Linked DNA regions of Homo sapiens: region 1 is linked to region 2. Evidence: fine-mapped expression QTL. A gene starts in region 2. The other region holds a variant in brackets. All regions are shown on one strand. Distances are from middle to middle.

Region 1 (2,901 bases), 25 kb after region 2:
TAGTCCAGGTCATACGGCAAGAGGAACCAGAAAGGCAAATGTGGAAATCACTAAGTAAAAATGTATTTTAAGCTTAATTCTTTTCTTTTCTTTTTTTTTTTAAAGACAGAGTCTTGCTCTGTCACCCAGGCTGGAGTGCAGTGGTGTGATCTTGGCTCACTGCAACCTCCGCCTCCTGGGTTCTAGCAATTCTCCTGCCTCAGCCTCCCAAGTAGCTGGGATTATAGGCACCCGCCACCGCACCCAGCTAATTTTTATATTTTTAGTAGAGACAGGGTTTCACCATCTTGGCCACGCTGGTGGCTTGGCTTGTAATCCCAAGCCAAAAAAAAAAAAATTTTTTTTTAAGTTTTCCTAAATTTTATAGACACCAGAATCTTCCCCAACTGGGGCCTAGGAGCCTCCCCCTGTAACTCATCTGCTAATTGCCTGATGTGAAAGAGGCTGTGGCAAGAACCCCACAACTGTTTAGATCCTGAGAGCCACTCAGTATCCCTGGGCCAGTCCCAACCCCAGGTTGTGTCCCCTAACATCGGTCTAACCCCATGGCTCTCAAATCGTGTGCCAAGGCAGTCTGAGGTGCCACAGCAAGTGATCAAGGGAGCCACTGGCTATTTTAAACTTTCGAGGAAAACAGTGATGCTCAACATCAGCTGGGCACTGTAAGTGACTAGATGGGGAGAGCATGCAGCCTCAGCATTGAGACCACACTAGCTTCCTTTGGAGATGTGATATCTGTCATAGTACTGTGTGAAAATCAATGTGGAAAAGAGAGAGAGTGATGGTTGCTAGTCTGATTCCAAAGCTTGAGGTGTGCAGTGCTTGACAGGTTCATGTATTGGTAAGAAACAGTGACACCATGCTTGTGAAGAGCCATTCCACTCCAGCCTGGGCAACAGAGTGAGGCTGTATCTCAAAAAATAAATAAATAAATAAAAGAATATTTTGGATTCTTAATAACCATGATTTCTAAGAAATTATTAAGAATCCAAAATATTCTCTCTCTTTCTTTCTTTTGAGACAGAGTCTTGCTCTGTCACCCAGAGTGCAGTGGCACAATCTCGGCTCACGGCAACCTCTGACTCCTGGGTTCAAGTGATTCTGTCTCAGCCTTCCGAGTAGCTGGGATTACAGGTGCGTGCTACGATCCCTGGCTAATTTTTGTATTTTTAGTAGACACGGAGTTTCATCATGTTGGCCAGGCTGGTCTCAAACTCCTGACCTTAGGTGATCCACCCGCCTCAGCCTCCTTAAGTGCTGGGATTACAGGTATGAGCCACCGTGCCCAACCTCTTTTTTTTTTTTTT[TA/A]ATAGAGACATGGTCTCACTATGTTGTCCAGGCTGGAGTGGAGTGGCTCTATTCACAGGTGTGACCATAGCTAACTGCAGCCTCAAACTCGTGGTTTCAGGAGATTCTCCTACCTCAGTCTCCTGAGGAGCTGGGACCACAGGTGTGTGCTACCACTCCTAGCAAAAAATATTATTTCTTCTTTCAACTTGACATATGATTTTTTCAAATGACCACTAAGCTGTTAAGACAATTTAAATACCTATTAGGATGTTCAAACTTAACTACTTAACAGAGGCCAGGCGCGGTGGTGCATGCCTATAATCCCAGCACTTTGAGAGGCTGAGGTGGGCAGATCGCTTAAGCCCAGGAGTTCGAGACCAGCCTGAGCAACATAGCAAAACCCTGACTTTACAAAAAATACAAAAATAAGCTCGGTGTGGTGGTGTATACCTGCAGTCCCAGCTACTCGGGAGGGTGAGGTGGGATGATCACTTGAGCCCAGAGAGGTTGAGGCTAGAGTGTGCCGTGATTGCACCACTGCACTCCAGCCTGGGCAACAGAGCAAGACACTGTTTCAAAAAACGAAAACCAGAACCGTTAGGTATTTCTTTTGGCTAAGGGATGCCATGAAAAATTTACTGAGACATAGTGAGTAGAGAATGTTTGGGAATCTTGAGTCATGAGTTGAGCAAGTTTGGGAACCTCTAGTCTAAACCATTTTCACAGAGGCCAGCCCTCCACTTGCCCCCAACAACTGGCTCATTTGTAGCTAAATATATCTCACCAAATTCAAAGCTTCTTCCTTTATAAGAAAGTACTGTCTGAGTCTCTTTATCCTCTCTCAAGAGAAGTAAACAGAGAAGAGCAGTTACTTTAAAGATGACAGTTCTCCTTTTTCCATCTTACTGAATATGCAAATTTGGTAATACTATTAAGTTTCAAATATTTATATCCTTTGACACAGCATCACCATCTCTACAGATTTGGTCTGAGGAAACTCTTATGGAGGTGCATGAAGACAATGGACAAAAATGTTCCCTAAAGCACTGTTTATAACGGCAAATACTGGAAACAACCCAAATGTCCATCAGCAGCATCAAGTACCTCTGTAGAATGAAGAGGCTACAAAGAAACACCCAAGATTCATCGTTAGTCACTAAATCTGGAAGACCAACACTTCCAGACATCAAGACGTAAGAGAAAACTCAGCCGTTAGGGTTGGGTGGTGATGGTGCAGTGGAACAGACTAGATCTGGAGGCAGACCCACGGTACACGGATCCTTGATTTATGAAAAAAAGGTGCCACTTGGTGCAGCAGGGGAAGGATAGTTTTTAAAATAACAGGTTCTGCGTCAGGTAGATATCCTTATGGAGAAAAACAGATCTTGCACTCCTACCTCCAACTCTTATAAAAATTAATTCCAGGTGGATTAGGTACATATGTGTAAAGAGTAAAAAATAAAGCGTCTAGCAGACAACATAGGAGAATATCTTCATGACTTTGAGGTAGGACAAAGATTTATTGAACAGGACTTAAAATGTCTAACTGTAAAGGAAAAGACTAATAATCTGGATTTCACTGAAATTAAGAGCTTGTGCTCTCACTAGACA
Region 2 (2,901 bases):
TTTGGCCAGGGCACAAGGAGAAGCTCTGAGTGGGGAGGTCACCTCCTCTTCCTGTCTGAACCCATTAATACCTGAAATTAGTCTGTCAGCCCCTCATGTCAGGCAACAGACTTGATCCTCCTTAAAATGTAAATCCTTCCTCTTCTTCTCCCCCACCTTCTCCACTTTCATAAGCTGGTCCCAGTTGCTGAGAGAAGGACGGATGGAAAGGGGACCAGGAGGGACCCTAGGGAGCCCCAAATGTTTCATCTCACAGAAACTAGGCGCTGGAGTCCTTTCATTCATTTATTCATTCAGCAAATGCCGACAGAGGCCTGAGCTGCACACTGGGTGAATTGCACGCCCAGTCCTTGCCCTCCTGCTGTTTCCGTCTGGACAGAGGGAGGTTCCATATCGACCCCTATCTCCTGGAAGGGGCAGATTATGAGTCTGCCCTCCAGGAAGAGTCTTTGATGTTAAGATGAGATACTGAGGCAGGGAGAAGCCAAGCACCAGGACCTTCTCCAGTTCAACTCAACCCCGAAAACACCACTGGGCCGTGCTGGGACCGGGTCCGGGCTCCTTAGGGCCCCCACACCCTACCCCTCGGTTTGTGAAAGGACCTGCGGGTGGGCGCAGGGCGGAGGTCTTCCTTTTCCAGGCTTTCCTTTTCCAGGGCAGGGGCGAGCCCAGTCCCCCTCTCCTCACACCTGGGGAGGGAGCAGATCGCGGAAGTGCGTCAGCCAAGCCGTGCCCATCGACGCAGGGATGGGGACATCCCTGGACCCCAGCCCAGCGTTCGAGGGGTTCTGGAACTGGGCTCGCGCCGTGGGGTAAATCCTTGGCCCTCTGAAGCGGCGCTGCCAGGGGAAGTCCTTCCCATTTGACAGGTGGGAAAATCGAGGCGCCGAGAGGGGAAGGGGCCCTCCTTATGTTATGATCAGAACGGACAGAGGGGACGGGAAGGAGGTGAGAGGGTGGCCCTGCCCGTCCCGGGGCAATTCCGGGCTGCTTTGACCTCCGCGCCTGTAAGGTACAGGTCCCCGCACCTGTAAGACAGGGACGCTCTAGTCGCGGGCCCTAGAACTGATCCCCTTCGAGCGCCCAGTTCCGATGAATGTTTCGGGGCAGTCTTTGTGGAGGGGGGTTCCCTGTGGGGCCTCCCGGCTCCGCGGGGCCTGCTGCCTCCTCTCGCCCCTCGCGGCAGCCGCGCTCCTCCCCCGGCTCTGCCTCCCTTCCGCCCTCCCTCCTCTCTCCCTCCCCCGCCCGCCCGAGCCCGCGCCGAGCCCGAGCGGGAGCCGGAGCCGGAGCCGGAGCCAGAGCGCGGGCTGTACTGAGAGCGCGGCGGGAAGGTAGCGCAGTCGGGCGGCCCGCGGCCCCGGCGCGGCCTCCGCTAGGGCCAAGACCCGCACACCTGCCGGGCCGGGGAGAAGCCGGGGGCCGCGCGCAGGCGAGGACCCGCCGCCCGGCCCGGGGAAGATCTCAGGACGCGGACCGGGCAGCTCGGGTCCGAGGTGAGCCCGGGCGGAGGACGCGCCCACCGGAGGTGCGGCCTCGGAGCTCCAGACCCAGCCCACTCGGGGCTGGGGTCCCCAGAGGAGGCCGACGGCCGAGGCGGCGTGCGCCGGGAGCCAGCGCGATCCCTGCGGGAGCGGAGGAGCCGAGCCGGAGGGAGCCGCGGCGCCCGGCCATGCACCGGGCGCAGTAGCGGGAGGCGCGGGCCCGATGGCGCGGGCCGGGGCGCGGGGACTGCTCGGCGGCCGCCGTCCTCCCGGCCTCCGGCTCGCGCTCGCGCTTCGGCTCGCGTTGCTGCTGGCGCGGCCGCCGTCGGGCCGCGCGGGAGCCCCCGAGGCGCAGGGTCCCGCGGCGCCCGGCACGACAGCCCCGGAGGGGGGCGACCGCTGCCGCGGCTACTACGACGTGATGGGCCAGTGGGACCCGCCCTTCAACTGCAGCTCCGGAGCCTACAGCTTCTGCTGCGGCACGTGCGGCTACCGCTTCTGCTGCCACGACGGGCCGCGGCGCCTCGACCAGAGCCGCTGTTCCAACTACGACACGCCGGCCTGGGTCCAGACAGGCCGGCCGCCCGCCCGCGCCCGCGACACCGCAGCGCCCCGGGACCCCGGCCGCGAGCGCAGCCATACGGCCGTCTACGCTGTGTGCGGCGTCGCAGCGCTGCTGGTGCTGGCCGGCATCGGGGCGCGCCTGGGACTGGAGAGGGCGCACAGCCCGCGCGCGCGGCGCACAGTGACCAGGTGAGCACGCGCCGCCCAGGGACCCCCGCCTGCTCCTCGGACTGCTCTCCCTGCCCGCTGATCCTTCCCGCCGCTCTCGAAGCGCTGGTTCTCCCAGCAGGCCCCTTCTCTGGGTTTTCCTGTCTCCTTCTCCCCCCGCCGCCCCCCCAACACTTCATCAGGGAGACACCTGACACCGCCCTGACTCCCTTTGACCTTCTGCCCGTGCTGGGCGCCGCACCGCCTTTCCCTGCTCGAGTCTCCTCTGGAGGGCAGGGGGGTGGGGGCGGGCTGGGAGGGGGACAGGTAGCCTTGCACAGAGGGCACCGGGTCACTGTCCAGGGTAAGGGGCGCCGCTGGCCAGGGAGGTGACCGGGCGTCTTGGGCACGGGAAAGGAAGGGGCGCTTGGTTCTCTGGGTGCCCATCTCCTGCTTCTCCCCACTCCTCCCTCCCCTCTTCCACCTCCTGCCTCTCCCCTGCCCCCACAGCTGTGACTCAAGGCTGCCCTTCCCTCCTTGGGTTTCAAAGGCCTCCCCCCACTCACCCCATGCCACAGCTCCCAGGTGAAGGTCAGGGCTCCCTCTGCGTAGAAAGGGGACTCTGGAACACAGTCGTGTGTTGCTGAGGCCAGGACAGGTGCTTGTTGCATTCTGAGCTTGGTGTGAAGTGGGCACTACAGGGTCCAGG

What was found. PIP is the estimated chance that this variant, and not a neighbour inherited with it, causes the effect.
Region 1: its variant is fine-mapped to the expression of SHISA8 in whole blood (INTERVAL, PIP above 0.99).

The regions. Positions count from the first base shown.
Region 1 is chr22:41,888,109-41,891,009 of GRCh38, reverse strand. The region is part of intron 11 of SREBF2 (sterol regulatory element binding transcription factor 2); the gene reads right to left. Among named protein-coding and RNA genes, the nearest start is that of MIR33A, 11 kb to the left of the region's middle. The variant TA/A (reference allele first, on the strand shown) is at 1,308.
Region 2 is chr22:41,913,471-41,916,371 of GRCh38, reverse strand. It overlaps SHISA8 (shisa family member 8), which reads left to right and starts at 1,298. Exons shown (of 4, transcript NM_001207020.3): 1 at 1,298-2,234. The coding sequence starts at 1,705. RefSeq lists silencers at 1,180-1,339, 1,360-1,439, 1,510-1,579, 1,620-1,699, 1,840-1,919 and 1 more and an enhancer at 1,072-1,997.